Homo sapiens: one gene and its partners. The protein of the gene in region 3 purifies or fractionates together with the protein of the main gene of each other region. This does not show direct contact. Each region holds a gene or a part of one and is shown on either strand. Other genes may lie near its edges.

Region 1 (4,136 bases), on a different chromosome or scaffold from region 3:
AGCTGAACCTTATATCCTGGTTTGGTTCCTGATGACTTTCAAATTCTCCTGACCCAAACGCAAGCTCAGAAGCACAAGCACATTGTTGGTGGCAGTACAGACTGAAACACCCTCTTTGGATGGCAGTTCCTCTCACAGGACTTTATTCTCCAGGTATGCACAGGCACACACAGGTGCCCAAAGGATAAACACACAGATCTATTGTAGCATATTTGTATTACTGAGAGATTAGAAACATCCTAAAATGTTAACCAAATCGCTTGGATGAAAAGTTTTGCTCTGCTTATTAGGTTTGGCGTACAATATGGAGGTGACATCTGTTACTTCCAGTGTATTATAGATACTTTAGCTCCAAAAATGATACCTGTACCTAGATGGGCACCAAAAGGGAATGGTTAACAAATATTGCATATACAGGGGTATGGGGCAGCTCCGGGGCTGGGGATGGCGGCGGCCAGGTTTGCAGCGGCTCCAGGATGAGCGGGTGGATCCCGGGAAGCGTGGTGAAATGGGCTGGCTCCCGAGCCAGCCGGGAGGACGCTTACTACAGCTGCTCAGAAGCACCACTGGAAGCTCAGATGTAGGTGCCCCAGCCAGAAGCAGAGAGGGGTTCAGAGAAGCTACAGAGAAGCCCCTCCTGATGCCCCAGGGAGCAAGCCAACTCCTTCCAGGCTCCAGGAACACCACAAAGCAATATGAAACCTGTTCATGAGAGGAACCAGGAATGCCTTCCACCAAAGAAACGAGACCTCCCCATGACCAGCTGCTCCACTAACCACACATCCTCCAGTGATGCCTCTGAATGGTCCCGAGGGGTTGTGGTGGCCGGGCAGAGCCAGGCAGGAGCCAGAGTCAGCCTGGGGGGTGATGGAGCTGAGGCCATCACCGGTCTGACAGTGGACCAGTATGGCATGCTGTATAAGGTGGCTGTGCCGCCTGCCACCTTCTCACCAACTGGCCTCCCATCTGTGGTGAATATGAGCCCCTTGCCCCCGGAAAAAAAAAATAATATTGCATATGCAGTTGATTAAATGGCATACTCCATGGCTATTAGGAGTGATGAAAATGGGCTGGGTGCGGTGGCTCATGCCTGTAATCCCAGCACTTTGGTAGGCCAAGGTGGGCAGATCACCTGAGGTCGGGAGTTTGAGACCAGCCTAATCAACATGGAGCTGTGTTTACTGAGTGGGGCTTTCGCAGGCTGGAGCTAAGAATTTCCAGTATGCGTAACAGCCACAGCCCAAATATCTGCCAGTGAGTTGTGTAATTCCCCAGAGCAGGCCTGGGCAGTGTCTGGGTGGGGCCTGGGAGCCACAGGAGATGCCCAAAGCCAGGCAGAGCCCGGGGGCGAGGGGACGGCAGGCAGGTGTGGCGCTGCCCTGGGCGGGCTTGCACCCCCACACCCAAGTGAGCGGCCTGCTCACTCCTCAGCTGCAGGAGCCAGACGTGTGGAGTCCCAGCAGAGGCCAACCTGTGTCTCTTCATCTCCCTGGGAAAGGTGCCCCCGAGGTGAAAGAGATGGCCTGGTGGAAATCCTGGGTAAGTGGGAGCTGGCAGGAGATTTGGGTTCCTGCATGGTGTTGGGTGCTGGTCACCAGGGAGTCCTGAGAAATGTAAAGTCGCCCTTGGCTGGGAGTGGCTCAGTCTACATTTGGCTGCCTCCTGGGCCAAGCATGGAGGGTGGGAAGGGGCCGAGAAGAAACAGTCCCAGGCCTAGAGTGCCCACGGCAGGGATGGGACCTGGGCCGGGAGACAGGCTGATGAAGAAATCTAGAAATGCAAGGGGGAAGCTGAGGTTTGAGAAGAGTCCAGGGGAGGGACCCTTGCAGGGGTGGGGCCACTCAAAGGAGGGGGTATCATGGTTGAGCCTTGTGTGTAAATGTGTATGGGGTGCACACACGTGTGCATTTGGGGAGAATCAGGCATACTGCTCCTGGCAGAGGGAACTGTGTGCAGAGGGTCAGAGGGCAGGGAGCTTGGCTTCGAGGGAAGCTGCTCAGCACAGCTCAAGGGTCCTGGTACCGGAGGAGATGGACCTGGGGAAGCAGGCAGGGCCAGGTCCTGAAAGGCCTTGCCTGGCAGGCTGAGGAGTTAGGCTTTACCTTAAGAGAAGTGGGAAGGCACTGAAGGGCTTTGAGCATGAGAGTAACCTGAACCTGCTGTTGGGGACCCATCAATGCCTTCACCTCAGGGATCAATGATGTTCATTTGTCAAGACTGGAGAGGGAAGAGGGGAAGCAGGAGGACCTGGCCTGCTAGAGCCTGGAGGAACCCGGGGCTCAGGGCAGCCCATCCCCAGCAGAACTGATGGGTTCTCGGGAGCTTTCCATCTATGGTTGAGCCTGAGGCCATCGCTGTGCTAAGGAGTTGAATATCCAGAAGGGGACAGAGGTGACATCTCCCGGCTGCCGGCTCTGCACACCCTTTTCCTTTCCTCCCAGGCAGCCTCAGGATGTCAGGGCTGCACTTTCTGTTTTGCAGATGATGAAATGAAGGCTCAGAGACACTGAGTGACTTGCTAGGGTCCAATGGCCAGCAGGCTCCAGTCAGAGAGCAGTTGGGTCTCTCTGCCCAGCCCCAGGTTCTCTGTGAGCTTTTGTGGGATACCCAGGCTTGTCCAGCTTCAGGGAGTCTCTGGATCATAGATGTCGCAACCCAAGCAAGTGTCCTCAGGGTCAGACATGCTAGGTTCTGGACAGGTGGGACAAAGAGGAAGCCAGGCTGAGGTGGGGCAGCTGTCCTGGCCCCCAGGGAAGCAGCCTTCTTCCAGGACAAGGGGCCATGGAGGCCTGCAGCTTCAACCAGACTGCTGGGAACCTGCCTTTGAGGAGGTGGACATGGCAGGGAGAGCCCAGTGCTGGGTGGTTTCCAAAGTCAGTTGCTGGCCAAGGCAGTCTGGCACTGGGCCTTGCACCCAGTGCAGCAGGACAAAGGGCTGTCCATGTAGGGACCTGCCAAATTGACAGGATCACTGTGACACTCACTGAGTCCCTACTCTGTGGCCGGACCCTTCTCTAAGCACCTCACATTCAATATCTCCCTTGAACCTCACAAGGAGTCTATGAAGTAGACACCAGTATCCTTATCCACAGATGAGGAAACTGAGGCACAAGTAGGCTAGGCAGGTGCCCGAACTCACTAGTAAGTGTGAGAGTCTAGGTGAGAATCTGAACAGCCTGACTCCAGGGCCAAAACCATACCCTGGTCGTCCATACCCCATGTGAGAGCTGGCTAGGGGTAGCAAGTTCACAGGTAGACCCCACCTGCAACAGCTGAGCTGCTAGCGAAGACCCAGTGTCCTCTAGGCACAAAGCTGGGCCAGGAACGCGATGGGAGGAGATGAGGGAGCCACTGGAGAGAGATCTGTCTGCAGGCAGGGTCCATCTGCACCTCTCTTTTTGGTGTTGCCTTTTCCTCTGTGTCTCTCATAGAGACAAACCCATCTCCCAGGCCTCTGGGCAGCCACGTAGCAGGGGAAGGCCAAGGCGTGGCAGCTCCCCTGTGCCTGTCACAGAACAAGTTATATTAATAGATGTAGTCACAGGCTGGTCTGAGTCACCTTTTCAGTGAAAATGTGCCTGTCTGGACTAGCACGGCCCTGGGCAAGACCCTGCAGGAGCCTGAGGCTGACCCTTCCTTCTCAGCAGGAGGTCTGGAGCTCCAGGACTCCACACTGATAGCCAGGGCTCCGATTCCCAGAACACTTATTTTCTAAAACCTTAGAGTGGGAAGTGAGACAGAGGCTTCTCAATGCAGCAAAATCAGAACCAGCCAGGGAGCTGCTTACAAATGCTGCACCTGAGACCTACCGCACCCCTGCGGGACTGCATGCTCCTCAGGGATGCGGTTACACAGCCTGGCCACTCGCTGGTGCACCACAGCCCCCGAGTGCTGGGGCAGAGGGAAGCCGGCAGGCACTGAGAGCTGAGATGCCTCCCACATTCCCAGATGACCTGCGTTCCTGTGGGTGAAGCTTCCTTCAGTGGAACGTTCCAGGAACACTCATTGTCTGGGAAAGGTGGAGTCATCAGTAGGGCAGGGGAGGTAGATAGAGCTCAGCTTCTGAGTCAGGCTGGGGAGTCCCAACAGCATCACTTACTAGCTGTGTAAGGGAGTCCAGCTCCCTTTCTGTAAAG
Region 2 (3,114 bases), on a different chromosome or scaffold from region 3:
GAATGTGTAGTTCCTTCAGTGAATATGGCCCTGGGGCTGAAGATGGCAGAAGCATTCTGGGAGCTTCTGGAGAAGGAGACCTGGGAGGAGAAGGTTGGAATGGCGGGGGCAGCAGAGGGGCTGGGTGAACTCAGCTGTCCCACCCAGGCCCATCCTCTGCAGCCCGAGAAGGAAGCTCACAGGGCAAGACATGGAAGAGATCAAGTTCCCTGCCCGGTGCCTGGGCTGTTGATGGCCTCAGGAAAATGGAACCATTACCTGTTGCTGTCAAGTGGCTGGGGGCCAGGATGCCTGGGTTGGCCGTGAGAGGACATTGCTGAGGAGAGTGGAGGCCAGGCTGGGGTGGGGTGTGGCAGGAGGACAGGAATGCAGTGGAACCAGTGGGTCAGGCTCCTGAGGGCCCCAGGCTCCAGCCTCAGGGCTGGCCTGTTCCCTCCTAAGCTGCCATCTTCATATCTTCAGGACCCACCCCTCTACTCCTCACCCTCAGCACAACGATGTGATCGAAAGGCAAATATTTATTTTTCAGGAAGAGAAACAGGAGACCTCGAGGCTTCTGGACTTAGGAGGTCCGGGCAGCTGGTCCATGGTTGTCCAGGTAGTGCCGCAGGGCTGTGGGATAATCCGTTATGACGCCAGTGGCTCCCACGCTGAAGGCTGCTTCAAAATCCGACTCTTCATTAAGGCACCAAAAGACCACCTGAGCAGGGAGGGAGGGGGCCTGTAGATTCTGAACAATTTTACATCTGGAGAGTGGGGACCCACCTCCTCCTCTATGGAGACTCCCCAGCAGCAGTAGGCTGGAGCTGATTGTTAAATTCTCAGGAATTTTGCAAAGTGGTTATTAAACCCAGCCATTATTAAAAATTAAATCATAGCCTGGGTGCAGTGGCTCACGCCTGTAATATCAACACTTTGGGACGCCGAGGCAGGAGTTGAGGCCAGGTGTTTAAGATCGAGTGAGACCTCATCTCTACAAAAAACTTTGTAAAAATTAATTAGCCCGGTGTGGTGGTATGCGCCTGTGCTCCCAGCTACTTGGAAGACTGAGGTGAAAGAATTGCTTGAGCCCAGGACTCTAAGGCTGCAGTGAGCTATGGTTGCACCACTGTACTCCAGCCTGGGCGATACAACAAGACCTCGTCTCAAAAAAAAAAAAAAAATTATATATACTGACAATTAAATTATTTATTTATTTATTTATTTATTTTTTGAGATGGAGTCTTGGTTTGTCACCCGGGCTGGAGTACAGTGGCATGAACTCGGCTCACTGCAAGCTCTGCCTCCCGGGTTCACACCATTCTCCTGTCTCAGCCTCCTGAGTAGCTGGGACTACAGATGTCCGCCACCACGCCCAGCTAATTTTTCTGTTTTTAGTAGAGATGGGGTTTCACCATGTTAGCCAGGATGGTCTCGATCTCCTAACCTCGTGATCCACCCGCCTCGGCCTCCCAAAGTGCTGGGATTACAGGTGTGAGCCACCGCGCCCGGCCCTAAATAAATTATTAAAACAACAAGTGGCCAGGCGTAGTGGCTCACGCCTGTAATCCCAGCACTTTGGGAGGCCGAGGCAGGCAGATCAACTAAGGTCAGGAGTTCGAGACCAGCCTGGCCAACATGGTGAAATCCCATCTCTACTAAAAACAGAAAAATTAGCTGGGCGTGGTGGCGGGCGACTGTAATCCCAGCTACTCAGAAGGCTGAGGCAGGAGAATCGCTTGAACCCAGGAGGTGGAGGTTGCAGTGAGCTGAGATCACGCCATTGCACTCTAGCCTGGGCAACAGAGCAAGACTCTGTCTCAAAAAACAAAACAAAACAAAAAACAAAACCCAAAACAAACAAAAATCCAGTAATAAATATTCAAAGCATATCTCTTGCTAATCAGTTTCCTATTACTGTGTTCTTGAAGTGATTAAGTCTGTTGAGGCTGCAAGATGGAAATACTACATGATGGGGTGCCACCATGCATCTCTTCCCATTCTGCATTTAGTGGCTTCATGTCGGCAGCCTGAAACTGGCCAAGATGGGAGTATTTAAACCAGGAAAATTAATCCTCAAATCAGGGCTTTCATTTGTTCCTCTCTGAGAGCTAGTTGTTGACCACTTAACAGCACCACCCTCCCCCAAACCCCCATTCCACTGCCACCTGCCCCAGCTCCTGCAGCTCTGCCCCTTCCCTGCCCGTTGAGTGGGCACTGAGGTAGGCGGAGATGGGAATTTTTTATTTAAAAATACAGATGAGACGAGGTCTCTCTGTATTGCCAACACTGGAGTGCAGTGGTGTAATCACAGCCCACTGTAGCCTTGACCTCCTGGGCTCAAGTGATCCTCCCACCTCAGCCTCCTAACTAGCTGGGACTACAGGCATGCACTACCATGCCCAGTTAATATTTTATTTATTTATTTATTTATTTTTGAGACAGTCTTGCTCTGTCGCCCAGGCTGGAGTGCAGTGGCGTGATCTCGGCTCACTATAGCCTCCAGCTCCTGGGTTCAAGTGATTCTCGTGCTTGAGCCTCCCAAGTAGAGCTGGGATTACAGGCATGCGCCACCATACCCGGATAATGTTTACATTTTTAGTAGAGATGGGGTTTCACAATGTTGGCCAGGCTGGTCTCGAACTCCTGACCTTAGTTGATCCGCTGGCCTTGGCCTCCCAAAGTGCTGGGATTGCAGGCATGAGCCACTGCACCCTGCCTCTGCATTTTTCTTTTCTTTCCCTTTTCCTTTCCTTTTTCCTGTTTCCCTCCCTCTCCTCCCTCTCCCTGTCTCTGGCTCTCACGCTCTTTCCTCTCTCTCTTTTGAGACAGTCTGGCTATCTCTCCCAGGCTGGAGTGTGGAGTGCAGTGGCGTGATTCTGATTATAGCTCACTGCACCCTCGAAACCCCGTGCTCAGGTGATCCTCCCATCTCAGCCTCCTGAGTGGCTGGGACTACAGGTGTAAACCACTGCGCTTGGCTAATTTTTAAATTTTTTGTAGAGACGAGGGTCTCAGTATGTTGCCCAGGCTGGTCTTAAACTCCTGGGCTCAAGTGATCCTCCCACCTTGGCCTCTCAAAGGGCTGGGATTACAGGTGGGAGCCGTGCCCAGCCTCTGCCTATGGCATTTCTT
Region 3 (2,888 bases):
GCTCCCCACTCATGGTTCCCCAGGGAAGAAGGGAGATGGGGCAATGCCACCTCCTGTCCCCCCTCACCCCTGCATTACAAACCTCCCCACTTCCCCCAGACCCTTGCCCTCCACCTCTGCAGGCATCAGACACTGGCGCTGGCCGGGGCGCTGGCGGTGCTGGGCTGCTCGGGGCCGCTGGAGGAGCGCGCAGCCGCACTGAGGGGACTGGTAGAGCTGGCGCTGGCGCTGCGGCCAGGGGCGGCGGGGGACCTGCCCGGGCTGGCTGCAGTCATGGGCGCCCTGCTCATGCCCCAGGTTCGTGGGGAGCAGGGACTGGAGGAAGCTGGAGTGCGGGTGACTGGGAAGACTGGAGAGGAGGCGTGCTCAGATCTCTTCTCCCAGGTGTCCCGGTTGGAGCACACGTGGCGCCAGCTCCGAAGGAGCCACACGGAGGCTGCGCTGGCCTTTGAGCAGGAGCTGAAGCCGCTGATGCGGGCTCTGGATGAGGGCGCTGGTAAGTGAAGGTCTGGGGCTTAGCATCCCCTGGGGGCCCAGACCAAATTTAACAGGACTCAATCTAGTCCTATGCCCAGTCCCTGCATCTGTTCTAGGCCCGGTCCCTTCACCATAGGCCCCGCCCTCCACATGAGGGTTGGTCCTGGCCCTTTCCCTAGGCCCCGCCCTCCACACGAGACTTGTTCCTAGGCCACGCCCCCACCAGCCTTGGTCCCAGCCCCTTTCCCTAGGCTACGCCCCTTCGCCATAGGCCCCGCCCTCCATACGGGGCGTGTGGTCCTGGCCCCTCTCCACAGACCCCGCTGTCGCTCAGTCCTAAGCCCCGCCCCTGCATTTGTCCTAGGTTCCACCTCTGCCCTATGCCCCATCTACAGCCCCAAACCCTGATCAGACCCTCCCCCTCCGCAGGACCCTGCGACCCCGGCGAGGTGGCGCTGCCGCACGTGGCACCCATGGTTCGCCTACTGGAGGGCGAGGAAGTCGCGGGGCCGCTGGACGAGAGCTGTGAGCGGCTGTTGCGCACCCTGCACGGGGCGCGTCACATGGTCCGGGACGCACCCAAATTCCGCAAGGTGGCAGCCCAGCGCCTGCGAGGTGAGCGTTCCCTCTGCGCTGGACTGCAGACTTCAGAGCACCCTGCAGGTTCTAACCGGATCCCCCAAACCCAGCCTGTCCCAGGAGGGGAGCCTCTCGCCACGCCTCCCGGAGCCCCACCCAAACTGGGACGGCTCCACTCCAGGAAGGTTCTCACCCCAAGCAAACGCTGCATCCAGCGGTATTGATAGGAACAGGGCCGTCCACCTCAAAACGGGCTGTCCTGCCCCCAGAGCCACCTCCGCGGGTCCCCACTCCCCCTTCCCACCTAAGACGATCCCGTCCCCCAGGGATCTCGATCCCCAAGAACGCCCTGCTCCCTCCAAAACGACTCCTCCGTCCTATCCTAGGGCAGCCCACCCGGCAAGATCCCCCCACCTTCCCCGACAACCTGGGATCCCGTCCTCGGGGCAGCCCCACGTCCAGGCACAGCCCCTAAGGCGGGACCTCCAGGATCTGGCACCTGGAACAGGCCACCCCATTGCACTGCGGTAGAGCCCCTCAGGCACCCCACCCCCATTCCTGCAGAGAGCTGGAAGCCCCCTCCCCTCTGACCCCGCCTAGTCATCCCGCAGGTGGGGCAGGTCCCTCCCGGGCCCCTGTTGGGTCAAAGTCCTCTGGGGAAAGGAAGGTGCCGGGAGGTTGGGAGGGGCGAGGCGGGCGCCTGGGCCCCGCCCCCAGCCCACCTGACCTTGCTTCCAGGATTCCGGCCTAACCCGGAGCTGAGGGAGGCCCTGACCACCGGCTTCGTGCGGAGGCTGCTCTGGGGTAGCCGGGGCGCGGGAGCTCCGCGCGCTGAACGCTTTGAGAAGTTCCAGCGCGTCCTCGGCGTCCTGTCGCAGCGCCTGGAGCCTGACCGCTGAGAGCGCAGACACCCTTCTTCACACCCGGGACCCCCAGGTTTTTGCGAACCCCAGAAGAGACCAAAGGAGTCGTCCCAGGCTCCTCGCGCCTCAGGTGGAATCCTGCCCTGTGCCTCACAGAAGAGGTGGGGACCGCAGTCAGGGTCACCTGGACCATGGTGAACATGTGACCTGCAGATCTGGCATCAGAGGCCAGAGTTCAAATGTGACTCCACCTCTTAAAAGCCGTGATTTCTAGCAGTTGACTTCACCTCTGTGTCGGCCTTTAACAAAATCATAGCCATACAGCAGCTCAGGCCTGTAATCTCAGCACTTTGGGAGGCCGAGGCGGAAGGAAGGCTTGAGGCCAGGAGTTCAAGACCAGCCAGGGCAACATGGTGAGACCTCATCTCTACAAAAACTGAAAAATAAAAAACTTTTAAAAAATGTAAAAGTTGAGGCTGTGTACTTTCTAAGAATTGTGGCCAGGAATGAGACCCCAGGTGGAGAATGCCTGGCACACAGTAGGTCTTCAATAAGTGCTACCCATTCTCAGAAGCTGCAGTGCATTCAGAAGGGATGAAACTTGGGTGTCCTGGCCAGGTGCGGTGGCTCACGCCATAATCCCAGCACTTTAGGAGGCCGAGGCAGATGGATCACTTGAGGTCAGGAGTTCAAGACCAGCCTGGCCAACATGGCAAAACCCTGTCTCTACAAAAAATACAAAAATTAGCTGGGCATGATGGTGTGTGCCTGTAATCCCAGCTACTTGGGAGGCTGAGGCAGAATTGCTTGAACTCGGGAGATGGAGTCTGCAGTGAGCTGAGATCACGTACGCCACTGCACTCCAGCCTGGGCAACTGGGTGAGACTGTCTCAAAAAGAAAAAAAAAAGAAACTTGGTATCCTTCTCCCTACCTGAGTCACAAGCAGACACCCACTGACAATGACATAG
Region 4 (3,500 bases), on a different chromosome or scaffold from region 3:
TAAAAAAAATCTCATTACATTTTTGAGGTAAAGTTCCGATTCTTTTTTTAAAATTTTGACTTATTAGGAATTTATTTTGATGTATAGTGTGATGTCATGAGCTAAAAATCTCAAAAATCTCAATTGTTCCATTTATAACAAACGTTTGTTAACACATTTATAACTGATTTACAAACAGATATTTACCAGTCTTTTTTGATTTAACACTTGTTCTAAAAGAGTAGGTCTTGCAGGACGATCCCCAAAAGATCCTGTTCTTTGTTTAACAATGGAGAGTATGTTATCTGCACTTTCCTGGGATAAATGATAAAAATGCAAATAGATAAACAGTTAACGTAATAAGTCATGATTACAGGTATTTCAAAGATGTAATGAACAGGTCTTTGCATTTCTTCCTTCTTCTTGCCCAGTCTCTGGGCAACTCTGGGAAAGTTCTTCATTATCATAGGCAAAGTATTGGCAGTTAATTTAATGTAACATTCCTCCTCGCTCCCTCTCCCCCCAGATTTTCAACCTGGGTTCTTTAGTCTCTTGGCAGGTCTCAAAATTAATAGTGTGTGTGATAGAGTGTGATATAGTAATACTGTGAGAGGTGGGCCACTAAGATTGAGGCAGAGTTACTTGTGAGCTATTTTCAATATTACAAAAAATGCCAAGTGGAATTGACCATTCTCTTTATATAATGCTATCCAGGCCGAAACATAATCTGCTTGCCTTTGGATGAAATATATGAACTCAGAGGCAAATTATATACTGCTCAATAAGATATCTGATAGCTTTTTACCCAGTTGGCAACCAAAACAAATGGGGGAGTAGTAAAATATTGTTTAAAGAAGCAACTGATAACCAAAGCTTTCAAAATTTAGATAAACTTGCTTGAAAAAGCACTAGTATAAATAGTCTCCTGCCAACTGTATGAACAAAACAGGTAAGTCCTAAAATGATACCATTACCCTGAGATTTCACTGCCCAAAAACAAAATCAGCAGCACTTATTACCAAATATGTACCCCCAGTTACCTGACAGCATCTTAAATACTTGTAATTTTGCTGGCATAACAAAATATTGTTTAGTTGACTGAAATATTCTGACTCTTACAAAACTATGCCACAATACCACATCCAAAATTCTTACTAAAGTAGCAAATATAAAATTATAAATGTTTTACCGGAAAGCCATACCTTACATGAATTTAACCTCTTTGTTCTTTACTTAGAATATTATCTATGCTGTTTTTTCTCTTGGGCTTCTTTCTACTGGCCTCTGAGTTATCTATGAGAATATCCCCTTAATTTCTTTCATTATGAGAAGTTTACCAACCTGATATTACAAAAATATTTCACCCCTAAACATTTTAGGCCTCAACATATAAAAACTGTAAAAAGAAAATTCTAATACCCAGAGGAAACAAAAATAATTTCTTCCTCCTCCAGCAACCCCCAAGTTGATTTTATTTATGAGATTCTTTCATTTTTATGTGCAAGATAATGGAATGCTGAAATTGACTTGATGGTACAGTACCCTCTGCCCTCACAACCCCACTATGGAAATTCAAAAGGTTAATTCACAAAATATTAGATACTGAATTAGATAAAGAAGCTTGTAGTGAAAATAACCTTTAGTCATCTAGTCCAAACTTGTACAGATGTTGGAATTCTTTTTCAAAAACCTGCAATGCTTTTTGTCCTACAGAGTTTACCAACTTTTGCCACATTTCATTTGGTTTTGAATAGCTCTAACATTTCGGTAGAATGTTAGGTAGCTTTACTTAAGCTGAGCTGAAATACATACTCCTTGTGATTTATGCCTAAGAGTCCTAGTTACCTCAGAATCATGCCATATAAGTCTACTGCTTCTCTTAAATGATAGCTTTTTAGATATTTAATAAGAACAATCCCACCAGCAGAGGTCAATTCATTTATCCCTAGTCCCTTTATGTGTCTCTCATATAGCATAGTTCTTAGATTGGTGGAGTAGACATTATACACATTTGTTCCTCATTTAACCTTGACTTGTGTAAGAAATATTAATTTTAGATACCTTAATTTCTTTAATTTTTTTACCTTAATAAATTCTTCATTGGAATAGAGAACTTAATTTCTAATCTTGCTGCTCACAACATAGCAGAAGACACCATCATCACCTGTCAGTCCTACTATAATAATCTTCGAAAGAGTCTCAAAATCTATAGGCTCTCAACTTTAACCCACTCCATCAGGGTAGGATCCTCTGCTACTTCCTAATTAGATCATTTCATTTAAAGACTCCAAATCCAAATCCCATAGCCTGGCATTCAATACTATAAAAAACTGGCTTCAACCTATCTTTCCAAATTTCTCTCTCATGAATTTTCCACTCAACTATTTTAGCTAGAATAGTCCACTTGCTATCTTCACAAAAGTGTTTTCTGTATTCCTACTTCTCTTTCTTTACTAAAATGTGCTTCTCTTTCCTTTTATCTACCAGAATTCTAGGGAAGCAGTATAGTAAGGAGGTAAAAGTGAAAGCTCTAGAATAAGACTGCTTGCGTTTGAGTACAATACTTGCTGGCTGTATGACCTAGGCCAAATTCTTTAGCCTCTCTGTGCCTCAGTTTCCATGTATGTAAAATATAGTATCTATCCCATTGCTGAAGGGTTGTGAGACTCCATTTATAGCTTAACACAGTGCTTGACACATAAGAAACTCAGCTCATTAAGCGTAAACTATTGCCCATCCTTTCTGGTTTATACTGAGTCACGTTTCCTCTGCAAAGCCTTTCTGGAGTATCTCAGCCTACAATGATCTATCCTCCTCTGAACTACTAAAACCGGACTATACAGTTGGCTCTTATTATATCCTGGCTGGCACTGTTATTTTCTTTACACTCAGTTTAACAAAGATAAAGATTTACAGATCTTGTTACCTCCTCAGAACTGATAAAGTATCCCAAAATATAAGACAAACTGGATAGTAAACTATTAGTATTATTTGTTGCTTATAGCAATTAATTCCCTTCCATAAAAAGTCATGCAAATTATTTTAAAATAGTGAAGCTAGGTGCAGTGGTGAAATAATCCCAGTTACTCTGAAGGCTGAGGCAGGAGGATCACTTGAGCCCAGGAATTCGAGGCCAGCCTGGGCAACACTGTGAGACCCATCTCTAAAAAATTAGATAAGTAAATAAATAACAAAATAGTAATAAGGTTCTTTTTGTGGGAGGTGCAGAGGGAGACGCTAATTCAGTATCTATCTGCCTTTTATACATTTTCCTCACTGTAGATGTAAATGTTAGGTAGTTTAAAAAAAAAAAAGTAAGCAGCCATAGGTTAACTACTTCTTTCTTGAAAATAAGTATTATTAGGCCGGCGTGGTGGGTCTCACCCGTAATCCCAGCACTTCAGGAGGCTGAGGTGGGAGGATCAGGAGTTCGAGACCAGACTGGCCAACATGGCAAAACCGCGTCTCTACTAAAAATACAAAAATTAGCCGGGCGTGGTGGTGCATGCCTGTAATCCCAG
Region 5 (3,500 bases), on a different chromosome or scaffold from region 3:
GACAAAAGCAGATGTTTCCAAAGATTTAGGGTCACTGTACAGGGCCTTCCACTTCAGCTGACTGAATTTAGGCAGTTCTGGCCACTTCAGTTTCCGCACCCAGGCCTCCTGACCTGGTGAGAAGGACAAAGAGAAAGGCCTGGCATTAACAGCTGGATAGAATAGGAAAAAAGTCTAGGTCCTAAAAGTTGGTGCTTCCCAAACTGCAATATGCATGAAACTCACTCAGGATCTTGTTAAAATGCAAATTCTGATTCAGAAGATCAGGGTAGGGCCTGAGCATCTGCATTTCTGACTCCCAGTGAAACCTAGGCTGCTGGGAGAAACCTAACAGCTGCAAAGCCTGACTGATTTTGCCTCTGCATCTCTCACCGCCATCTGCTCTTTAGGAAGGGAACTGGGGACCTCTGGAGGCAGACAGGCCTGTGAGGAGGACTGAGAGATGTCGTGAACGAGATAGTGATAAGGATCACCTGGGATGTTCATCGAGAAATGCAGCAGCTTTCCAAATTGTCCTTGGTGTCTCTTGTTTACCCATCACAAAAATATTCAATCCTTCTGGTTCACGAGGCGTGTCACATCCGTCAGACCTTGTGCCTCAATTACCCTGCCAGTTCAGAGAACCTGTCTCTGAGCCTCCACCAGGCCCTATTTAATTTGGAAGTGAGCAAATTAAACAGGTGGTAGGTGATAGGGCAGGAGTCAGGATTCCACAAAGACCATTTCCCCTGGGTCTTCAGGGTTACAGTCATTAGGGTTTAGTTTTAATTCACTCTGCAGTGGTCAACATCGACTGTGATGTCGCACAAAAATGAGGCTCTCCCTTAATTAAACAGCGCATTTGCCCAATAACCAGGAAAATGTCTAAGTTTTGTGGTAGAGACAGGTGGTGTTCTTTTCTTTAATCATACCTAAGGGCCCCCAAACCCAGGTAGGCTCAGGCTTCTGAGGGGTCACAGCCACGTGCAGCTCCCCACCCTTTGAATAATCAAGGTCGGGGTAGACGGATGTAATGGGAAATGGCCTTCCACCTGGCATTTCAACATCACCCACCGCAAGACTGACATGTCCAAGGCCAGTTCCCTTCCAGTTGAACCCATAAAACTGCCTCTAGGTGCCTCTCAGAGTCAATTCCTACCCATGGTATCTACGATGAGATCCAGCTGTCCATTATACACCGTCACGTTGATCCCTGCCTCCAGCAACTCGTCCACAATGCTAATGACTGGCTTCATGAAGTCCTCCTCCATGTTCACAAAGACGTTGGTAGCCTGGCCTGCACATGGGGAAGGAGAAAGAGGGAGTAGCTTGGAATCTGCCAAAACAGGAGGTACCTTTCAGCCCAGAGCATCTTGGGCTCCAGCACCGAACAACGACTGAATGCACAGATGCTTCACAAACAGGGATGAACCAGCCCAGAAATTTGTGCCGACTGGTCAGGTGTAAGGCACACATAAATAGCACATGTGGTCCATTCTCTTGAGAGCTTGTGATGACAGCAGGCACCATTTTTAATGAGGAATTGACACCTGGAATAGGCTACTGTCCAAGGAAACAGGGAGGGAGAGGCCCAGGAAATACTCATTAGGCTGGTACACTCAGGGAATAAATTGTGCTTTGGGCCAATGTCAGTTTTCCTGTTTTTTTGAGTAACACCAGGGCCAAGTTTCAAGTTCTGAACAGGTAGGCCTACCTTATAATAAACCAGATCAAACCTAAACCAATTCAGAGCTGGCCCTCAGGAAAGCCAAATGAATAACAAGCCCCAGGCAAGAGAGGAGCTAGTACTCTTGCTAGCTCCTGCCCATCAGCATTATCCTAACACTGAATGACAGCAATAAGAGTGGCAGCCACCATTATTTGCTAGTCACTGCCAAGGAGGCATCTGACAAGCAACATCCCATTTTCTTCTTCATTACCTTGGGAGATAAGAAGTCTTCTTTTAAAAAAATTTAATTTTTATTTATTTATTTACTTATTTGAGACAGAGTCTCACCCTGTCACCCAGGCTGGAGAGCGGGGGCACAATCTCAGCTCACTGCAGCCTCTACCTCCCAGGCTTAAGCGATCCTCCCACCTCAGCCTCCCAAGTAGCTGAGACTACAGATGCACACCACCACGCCCAGCTCTTTTTTTTTTTTTTTTTTTTAGACAGAGTTTCACTCTTATTGCCCAGGCTGGAGTGCAATGGCACAATCTTGGCTCACCGCAATCTCTGCCTCTCGGGTTCAAGCGATTCCCCCACCTCAGCCTCCCAAGTAGCTGGGATTACAGGCATGTGCCACCTCACCCAGCTAATTTTGTATTTTTAGTAGAGACAGGGTTTCTCCATGTTGGTCAGGCTGGTCTCGAACTCCCGACCTCAGGTGATCCGCCCACCTTGGCATCCCAAAATGCTGGGATTACAGGCGTGAGCCACCACACCCGGCCACACCCAGCTCTTTTCATTTGAGCTAATTTTTCTTCATTTCTAAAATTCTCCCAGCACTCAGGAGTAATGAAAAAACCAGGGATGGAATGAGACCTCTGGTGACTGCAGGTTGGGAGAGGAGGGCCCATGTCCCCTGAGAAAGCTCCCAGCAGCAGCAAATCGTAGGCTCCCAGCAGCAGCCGCAGGACCACTGACCCCATATCCTTGGGGTATCTTGAACACACATGAAACAAAACCCTCTTAGGTTTGGAGTATTTTCCCTTCAGAAACCTGAGATCTCTGCTTGCTCAAGGCCTCCCTATAGGACTAAAGTAGGAACTTAACCAAGATTTCTACCTGGCCCTGGTCTCTAAGGATTTCATTATTTCCTCACCATGGCCTTGAGACCAGAACGCAGTAATGCCTGGCCATATCCAGCATCAGGATGCCTGGGGAGGTCAGCAAGAGAGAGCTGGTCAAAATCTGCCCGAGCACCTGGGTGTCTCTGACATCCTGCAAGGACCTTTGGCGCGAAATCTCATCTGCAACCAACTGTGGCCTTCGATGTAGCTTTTTTATCTTAATTTTTTATTATGGAAAATTTCAAATGGATAGAAAGGAGAAGCATACAATGCTCCGATGTACCCATACCAGGCTTCAACAATTATTAACTCACAACCAATTACACATTATTTCCCTCCCCACTCAGCTCCCTACCAACTCCTTATTTTGAATCAATTTTGATGTCTTTTTTTTCCCCTTTTTAAGAAACAGGGTTTCTCTCTGCTGCCCAGGCTGGAGAGCAGTGGCATAATCATAGCTCACTGTACCCTCAAACTCCTGGGTTCAAGCAATCCTCCCACCTCAGCCTCCCAAGTAGTTAGAACTATATGCCACATGCCACCATGCCCAGCTAATTTTTCTATTTTTTTAAAGAGATGGGGCTTTACTATGTTGCTTAATTGTGGCCTCAAGCAATCCTCTCAACTCAGTCTCCCACAGTGGTGGGATTATAGGCGTGAGCCACTGCATCCAGCCCTGACAAGTCATTTACTGTCTCTGTATCTATTTGCTCACCTACAAAACGTGG
Region 6 (4,027 bases), on a different chromosome or scaffold from region 3:
GTGTTATCATGCCCAGTGAAAGCCCTTTATTTTTAAAAGTTCATTTTCCTGATCTTTACATGTATTTTAATACTAAAATTAAATTTAAAAATTTTAAAAAGTACCTACTAACCAAATAATGCCACCCAATAACAATAGCATTATTTGTATTATGTTCTGGTAATATAGTGGTGAACAAGGAAGACAGGGTCTCTGATAACTGTGGAATTCTCCTTGATCACTTCTCAAGCCTCTCTTCCGGATACTATTTCTTGGATCTACAGCTGTCTTCCTTCCCCACTTCTGTAGTTCAGTCTCTCATTATTCTCTACCTCCAATAAAAAGGGGCCTCCTAACTGGTTTCTTATGCAACTACTCAACATGGTATTTCTAAAATGCAGATCTTTCGGGATGATTTTCAATTGCTCAGAGAATAAATTCCTTGACTTTCTACGTAAGGCCCTGCAGGACCAGGCCCCTGTCATTATCTCTGAGCACTCTCCATCTTGCACCCAAAGCCCCAGCAATATCTTACTGCTTTCAGTAAATACACACCGGGCTATGTGGGGTTTTGTCTGGGGAAAGGGGATGTGAGTTGTAACTAAGAGATTTATAGTCAATCTTGAAGGGAAGAGCTCATATTGGAGGCAATGGAATGCCTCAAGCTGGCTCTGAAAGTACACATTTTTTCCAGTCATAAGTAGATCACATTTGTGTGATCTTGTGATCCTCTCTCTAGCAGAGCCGTGCAGACTACCTACTTCCGGCCCTTTCTTGCCCCACGAAATTTCACATCACAACGACTTGTGGTTTTAATCCTCCGTTTTTCTGCTTCTGAAGTTACTTCAGCCTGGCAAGTCCTTTACCTCCCCGTAGGCCTGGCGAGCTGCATCACAACATTCAAGATTCACCCTAGAGCCATCTGGGAAACTTTCTTCTCCAGGTCGCCCTGCGTCCTCGCCTCCCCACCCCGTTCTTCTCGAGTCGGGTGAGCTGTCTAGTTCCATCACGGCCGGCACGGCCGCAGGGGTGGCCGGTTATTTACTGCTCTACTGGGCCCGTGAACAGTCTGGCGAGCCGAGCAGTTGCCGACGCCCGGCACAATCCGCTGCACGTAGCAGGAGCCTCAGGTCCAGGCCGGAAGTGAAAGGGCAGGGTGTGGGTCCTCCTGGGGTCGCAGGCGCAGAGCCGCCTCTGGTCACGTGATTCGCCGATAAGTCACGGGGGCGCCGCTCACCTGACCAGGGTCTCACGTGGCCAGCCCCCTCCGAGAGGGGAGACCAGCGGGCCATGACAAGCTCCAGGCTTTGGTTTTCGCTGCTGCTGGCGGCAGCGTTCGCAGGACGGGCGACGGCCCTCTGGCCCTGGCCTCAGAACTTCCAAACCTCCGACCAGCGCTACGTCCTTTACCCGAACAACTTTCAATTCCAGTACGATGTCAGCTCGGCCGCGCAGCCCGGCTGCTCAGTCCTCGACGAGGCCTTCCAGCGCTATCGTGACCTGCTTTTCGGTTCCGGGTCTTGGCCCCGTCCTTACCTCACAGGTGAGTCGGACTTGTCCCGCCCTGTTCCTGGGCCCTGAGAGTGCCTGCCTGGGGACAGTTCCCCCAGGGCTCCAGAGACGCCCTATGGGCTTTTGTCCAGCCCTCTGATCACAGGCACTCCACTTCCTCCTCGAGCTGCATTAGGTTTTCATCCAAAGATAACTACTATAGGACTACGGTTCAATCAGGAGATTAATTTATGGAAAATACTGTGCCAGCAGAAATCTAAGGTGATCCTTCTGACCGTGTTCAAGCTAGCCAGGGTCCTAGTGAGACTGTGAGCAAGGGCTGAGTAGAGACCAGAGAAAACACTCAAAATTGGGGAGACATAATACAAGAACTATGCAAAGTTACATACAAGTTTCTGGCACATAGAATGTTTGGCGGGCGGATCACGAGGTCAGGAGTTCGAGACCAGCCCGGCCAACATAGTGAAACCCCGTCTCTACCAAAAACACAAAAAATTAGCCAGGCGTGGCGGCGCGCGCCTGTAGTCCCAGCTACTCGGGATGCTGAGGCAGGAGAATCGGTTGAACCCATGAGGTGGAGGTTGTGGTGAGCTGAGATCGCGCCACTGCACTCCAGCCTGGGCAACAGAGCAAGACTCCCTCTCAGAAAAACAACCCCCCCCCCCAAACAAAACAAAACAAAACAAAAAAAGTGTAAATTGTGAAAGAAATCATAGAACATAAGGAAGTGAGTTTCCAGCGGCCACTTGGAATGGGATGGTAGATGTAATTAGCCGGGACTGAAAAGAGGGTATTCCAGGCAGGAAGAAGGGCTTGAGCAGAGGCACAAAGAATTATGATTGAGTTCAAAGTTCAGGTCTAGTGGATGTGATGAGTGGGGGCTGGGGATTGAGGAGGGATGAGGGTGGGGAAAATGTGGGGTTGAAGAGTCAAGAGCGCTTTAGACATTGGTTTCACATAAAATGGAAGGGGCTAACAGTTTTCTTTTAGGCAGCTATGTAATCAGTACTGAAAATTGTATTTGAGGATAATTATTCCACAGCACATTTGTAAGTCGAGCCAACAATGTAAAGGAATACAATTCTGCTGCATGGGTTCAAAATTTAGAAGTTTCTTGATAATCTGGAATCTAGCTCTTTGGTTATATTGTATAGATGTTATGGGGGTGGGAGCCACATTTACGGTTAAGTCTTGTAGTAATATTTTATATGATGTTTCAAGTGTGTTTAAATTACTTTCACAAAAGTTATCATTTGATATATAGAATTAAAAGCATTTAATTATACAGATGACCCTTAGAGAGTGACATTTGATTTGGGGAAAGAAACACAATCTCAGCATCAGGGTAGTCCTTAACTGGTAAAATGCATTAAGCTGGAGAGGATAAGAGGCCTGCTGTTGAGTGTGGTAGATCACATTTTCCTCTGAATCCTTCATGACAAATAATAGAGTGCCTTACCCAAGATTGGCACTCAGAATATGTTGATTTTGGTTTAGAAGAGTTTGAGCCTGGTTTATGGAAAAAAAAATCCGTCTAACTGGTATATGTCAATCCCAGTGCTGGGCACTCTGAAGGTTACAAGAAAAGTCTTAAGACCTAGGCCTAGGCTCTATAGTTCAATTGCGAAAATATGAAACAGAGGGAGGTACACAGTGAATTATAAGATTCTCAAAAGCTTTATAGGTTGTTTCCTACTATTGTATACATGAGAATAATTCCTTTCCTTTTTTTTTTTTTTTTTGAGACGGAGTCTCGCTTTATCACTCAGCCTACACTGAGGCTGAGTGCAGTGATACGATCTTGGCTCACTGCAGCCTCCGCCTCCTGGGTTCAAGCGATTCTCCTGCCTCAGCCTCCCGAGTAGGTGGGACTACACGTGCTTGCCACCACGCCCAGCTAATTTTTGTATTTTTAGTAGAGATGGGGTTTCACCATGTTGGCCAGGCTGGTCTCAAACTCCTGGCCTCAAGTGATCCACCCACCTCAGCCTCCCAAAGTGCTGAGATTACAGGCATGAGCCACCGCGCCATACCTAATTCCTATACTTCTAAATTAGGCCTTCACCTCCATTGCTATAGCACCATAGTTTAATCAAGTAGATAGAAATGGAGAGATTGTAAGATAATGGAATACTATAAATTCCCTAACAAAAGAGATTTAGAGCCAGATAAATTCAATAAGATGTTTATTTCCATATATTACCTTCCTGTAAGTTCATTAGCTTTATTAGTTGAGGGTTCTTGTCCATTGAGAGAAAATGAAAACTGGGTTGGGTGAACATTACCAAAGACTTAAAAGTAACTTCTTTCTCTATTGCTCTTCCCATGGAGTCTTCCCTTTGGAATGTAGTTTCCTGTGGAGGCTTTTAGGTGACTTTGAGCTAAAATCCTAGTTCTGCAGAAACAAGGATGAAGCAATAGCATGGGAAACAAATAGAGGTAGAGCAATACCAACAAGGCTGAAGCCAGAATACATTTCTTTATGAGTCTGATTTTAGTAAAGAAGGCAACATATGCAGGTTAAATCTTAACTAAC
Region 7 (3,500 bases), on a different chromosome or scaffold from region 3:
TTCCTTTTTCTTTGCTACAGAGTGTTCACAATTTCACTTTACCCTCCTGGGCCACTGAGGACACCATGACTAAGTTGAGAGAATTGTCAGAATTGTCCCTCCTGTCCCTCTATGGAATTCACAAGCAGAAAGAGAAATCTAGGCTCCAAGGGGGTAAGTATTAAAAAATGAGAGGAGCATATTGGATTTGTGGTTGAATGATCCAGGTCTGAGTCATTCCCTCCACTAATCAACTGTGTGATCTCAGACAGTTCACTTAATCACTCTTGCACCAGCTTCCATTCTGCAAAATGGGGATATTAATGATACCTACTTCATAGACAGTGAGTATTAAAATGAATGTATGTATTCAAATGGCTTAGAGCAAACAGTACCTGGTACATAATACACTGTCAATAAATGTCATATGTTAGTATAATCATAACTATTACTCACTCAAGCCCTTAGTTTTCTATCTGGAAAATGAAAGCTAAAGCTAAATGATCCTTTCCATCCCCTCCAGATCAAAAATCAAGGATCTGTGTCTGAGCCACATGAAAATCAATTGTGTCTTGTGGCCTATATGATGAATTTTTCAAGTGGGAGGTATGACAAAAGTGGCCTGTTTTCCTGAAACCCTGAGTGGTAGTCATTGTGAAAGCCGATAAAATATATTTTTCAGGCTAATTGTTATATTTTTCAGACCAATTATGTGCTGTTAAAATATGTTGCAATTGACAAGTTTATAACACAGCTTGAAATTTTTCATTGACATTGAAAGCTGTTGAGATTTATTTATCAGTGATGCCTCTTCTTGGTTAGAACTGGCTCTTCGTAGCACAGGACACCCTGTCATATGAAGGCAGACCCAGGCAAGAGGATGCTGGATTCTTGTAATCAGGATAAGTGGATGGAAGAAAAAAGTCAGGACCAGCAAAGACAAGGACAGATGTTGGGGCTTATGAGAGAAACTGGATGGGCAGGCCAAGATACCAAATGAGGTGTCAGACTTAGATGTGGTTATCATAGGTATTAAAACTAGGGATAAAGAAGAAGAGAAAGTTCATCATGTCAGGTTGACGTAATGAGGAAAGTCCAAGCCACAGGAGATGGTCCAAGTCAGGCTGACACACATATTCAAGGCATTTTGAGATTAATACAATCACATCATGATTCCAGCCATTGACAGACACTATTCACCACAGCATCAGGACAAGTCCATCAAAATCCCAAGAGAATGCATAGAGGCAAAGCATATTAGGGCTGGACCAGACTGGGAGGTTGTTCACTGAGGCTACTTAACTAGGGAAAAAATTCAAATCACTGACCAGAAAAGGAATCAATTATAGCTAGAAAAGCAGGGCTGCACACCAGGTATAAAGAGTGAGGCAAGCTGTAACCAGGGGAATGAGGTATGAAACCAGGATGGTCAGGAGCAAATTCATGTGAGATGAATAAAGTAGGTTGGGGCAAAAAATTTAGGACAGTGGCCATTAACGACATGAGGTTGTTGTAGATCTGCTATTACAAAAATCCTGATTGCATGGCACAGAGACAGACTTGATAGAAATGTGCAAGTCCTTACTTCACATTAAACACATGAGCAACAAGATCCAGCCTTGAGGAAGGGAGAGTCTCCAGAGAGGAGTCTTAGATGGAAGCTGGAGTGTTGGAAAAAATTACCAGGCGGGATACAGACTGTGTCTATGGGCAGAACCCAGGAAGAAGCTCAATCTTAAGTGCTTAACAACAAAAGATGTAGAGGGTGCCTTGGAAGCCACATAAGCACTCAGCCTCATTTCTGGCCCACCAGGTGCCAGCAGTGTGACTCAGTTGCAAGCCCCATCAAATGGTGGAAGCGGGACTCTTGATTTATTTCCCCCAACCTAGTTATGGTGGATTCAGGCACCTAGTCCCTCACAACTCAAAGTGCAGTCTACTTTTCAGCATCGGCATCAACTACCACCTGGCTAGAAACACAGGCCCCACTCCCAAACGAGTTGAATCAGGATCTGCATTTGAATAAAATCCCAACATGCTTTATACCAGACAGGAGTTGACAGTAGTCTAATAGTAGATGTAGGGATGTGTATGTATGAATAAGAAATGGAGTTGCTCCACTTTCCTCATGTTTCCTCTTTTATTTCCCTTGCCTACTAGAAGATTACATTTGGGAGAAGCCACTTCCCCTCTCTGGATCTCTGTTTCACTACCTATGAGGAGATTAAACTAGACTGTCTATAAGAGTCCTTCTCTGAGTTGTTCTCTGATCTTGGATTCTAAAGGCTGGCACTTGTATGAAACCAGCTGTCCTGCTTTCTGGAAAAAGTCCAGCGCCATTGTTAAGCAGGAAAATTTCTCCTGTGTGGTTCTGCCAAAACAAAAGCTCAGACTATTATTCAGATCTGGCTGGGCAAGAGAGATTTGTCAACTACATGTTTATTGAATGATGAAACAGCTGCACACATTCCTGCACAGAAAACACACATTGTCTAGGTGACAAAGAGTAATGTGGACACATCAGGGCCATCTTCTGACCTTTGCTAGTTTTTTTGTTAGTTTGTTTTGTTTTTGTTTCTTTGTATTTTTTGTTTGTTTTTGTGTCTGTTTTTGAGACAGGGTCTCATTCTGTCCTCCAGGCTGGAGTGCAGCAGCATGATCACGGCTCACTGTAGCCTTGACCTCCCAGGCTCAAGCGATCCTCCCACCTCAGACTCCCAAGTAGCTGGGACTACAGTCATGCACCACCATGCCCAGCTAAATTTTTTTTAAATTTTTTGCAAAGACAGGGTCTCCTTATGTTGCCCAGGCTAGTCTTGAACTCCTGGGCTCAAGCGATCCTCCACCTTGGCCTCCCAAAGTTCTGGGATTATAGGCATGAACTACTGTGCCCAGTCTAGAATTTTTATTTCATCATTTAACTTCAGGGGTGACACTGTTCAGTAAGACACACACACATACACACACACACACACACACACACACACCAAAAAAATCCCTGGGGCAAATTTAGGATCATATGGCTGGTCATATCAGTGAAAAGAGAGCTCTTCTTGCTCTAGGCCAGAGGTTGGCAAACTACTGCCTGTATGCCTAATCCAGCCCACTACCTGGTTTTGTAAATAAAGTTTTATTGAAATACAGCCACACTCATTCATTTATGCATTGTCTATTGCTGCTTTCATGCTACCACCGCAGAGCTGAGTAGTTGCAACAGATTTTTTAACCCACAAAGCCTAAGACATTTACTCTCTGGACTTTTACAGAAAAGTTTGCCAACCTCTGCTGTAGACTAGAAATGAAGGAAGCAAAGTTTATGTCTTCAGGTCAATGATATTTTTGTCTAGTTTACGAAGATTTAATAAAGGATACAACAGATAACTTTGAAGCTAGCTTTCCACGATAGCATGTTCTAATGATTACAAATAAAGGTTTTGACACAGGACATGCTAGATTTAAAGCCCTCCTTCTCTGCTTGCAAGTTGTATAATCTAATCAAGTTTCTGAGCCTCTCCAAGCCT

What was found.
Region 1: the proteins of SH2D3A (region 3) and ANXA8 purify together in Homo sapiens (affinity purification with mass spectrometry; one large-scale study listed by BioGRID and IntAct). This does not show direct contact.
Region 2: the proteins of SH2D3A (region 3) and GDPD3 purify together in Homo sapiens (affinity purification with mass spectrometry; one large-scale study listed by BioGRID and IntAct). This does not show direct contact.
Region 4: the proteins of SH2D3A (region 3) and RFXAP purify together in Homo sapiens (affinity purification with mass spectrometry; one large-scale study listed by BioGRID and IntAct). This does not show direct contact.
Region 5: the proteins of SH2D3A (region 3) and SCPEP1 purify together in Homo sapiens (affinity purification with mass spectrometry; one large-scale study listed by BioGRID and IntAct). This does not show direct contact.
Region 6: the proteins of SH2D3A (region 3) and HEXA purify together in Homo sapiens (affinity purification with mass spectrometry; one large-scale study listed by BioGRID and IntAct). This does not show direct contact.
Region 7: the proteins of SH2D3A (region 3) and ACP3 purify together in Homo sapiens (affinity purification with mass spectrometry; one large-scale study listed by BioGRID and IntAct). This does not show direct contact.

The regions. Positions count from the first base shown.
Region 1 is NC_000010.11:47,481,316-47,485,451, reverse strand, and holds the start of ANXA8 (annexin A8), read left to right. Parts: upstream 1-1,336; 5' UTR 1,337-1,431; coding exon of another isoform or gene 1,432-1,518; coding exon 1,519-1,539; intron 1,540-4,136. UniProt on the Homo sapiens protein: This protein is an anticoagulant protein that acts as an indirect inhibitor of the thromboplastin-specific complex, which is involved in the blood coagulation cascade.
Region 2 is NC_000016.10:30,104,310-30,107,423, forward strand, and holds the end of GDPD3 (lysophospholipase D GDPD3), read right to left. Parts: intron 1,148-3,114; exon of another isoform or gene 701-1,147; coding exon 563-700; 3' UTR 501-562; downstream 1-500. UniProt on the Homo sapiens protein: Hydrolyzes lysoglycerophospholipids to produce lysophosphatidic acid (LPA) and the corresponding amines. Shows a preference for 1-O-alkyl-sn-glycero-3-phosphocholine (lyso-PAF), lysophosphatidylcholine (lyso-PC) and N-acylethanolamine lysophospholipids.
Region 3 is NC_000019.10:6,751,660-6,754,547, reverse strand, and holds the end of SH2D3A (SH2 domain-containing protein 3A), read left to right. Parts: intron 1-99; coding exon of another isoform or gene 100-122; coding exon 123-297; coding exon of another isoform or gene 298-384; coding exon 385-496; intron 497-906; coding exon 907-1,092; intron 1,093-1,442; coding exon of another isoform or gene 1,443-1,531; exon of another isoform or gene 1,532-1,773; coding exon of another isoform or gene 1,774-1,794; coding exon 1,795-1,955; 3' UTR 1,956-2,388; downstream 2,389-2,888.
Region 4 is NC_000013.11:36,822,222-36,825,721, reverse strand, and holds part of RFXAP (regulatory factor X-associated protein), read right to left. Parts: intron 295-3,500; coding exon 187-294; intron 1-186. UniProt on the Homo sapiens protein: Part of the RFX complex that binds to the X-box of MHC II promoters.
Region 5 is NC_000017.11:56,998,631-57,002,130, reverse strand, and holds part of SCPEP1 (retinoid-inducible serine carboxypeptidase precursor), read right to left. Parts: intron 1,277-3,500; coding exon 1,139-1,276; intron 114-1,138; coding exon 1-113. UniProt on the Homo sapiens protein: May be involved in vascular wall and kidney homeostasis.
Region 6 is NC_000015.10:72,373,215-72,377,241, reverse strand, and holds the start of HEXA (beta-hexosaminidase subunit alpha isoform 2 preproprotein), read left to right. Parts: upstream 1-1,227; 5' UTR 1,228-1,269; coding exon 1,270-1,522; intron 1,523-4,027. UniProt on the Homo sapiens protein: Hydrolyzes the non-reducing end N-acetyl-D-hexosamine and/or sulfated N-acetyl-D-hexosamine of glycoconjugates, such as the oligosaccharide moieties from proteins and neutral glycolipids, or from certain mucopolysaccharides.
Region 7 is NC_000003.12:132,344,907-132,348,406, forward strand, and holds part of ACP3 (prostatic acid phosphatase isoform PAP precursor), read left to right. Parts: intron 1-20; coding exon 21-153; intron 154-3,500. UniProt on the Homo sapiens protein: A non-specific tyrosine phosphatase that dephosphorylates a diverse number of substrates under acidic conditions (pH 4-6) including alkyl, aryl, and acyl orthophosphate monoesters and phosphorylated proteins.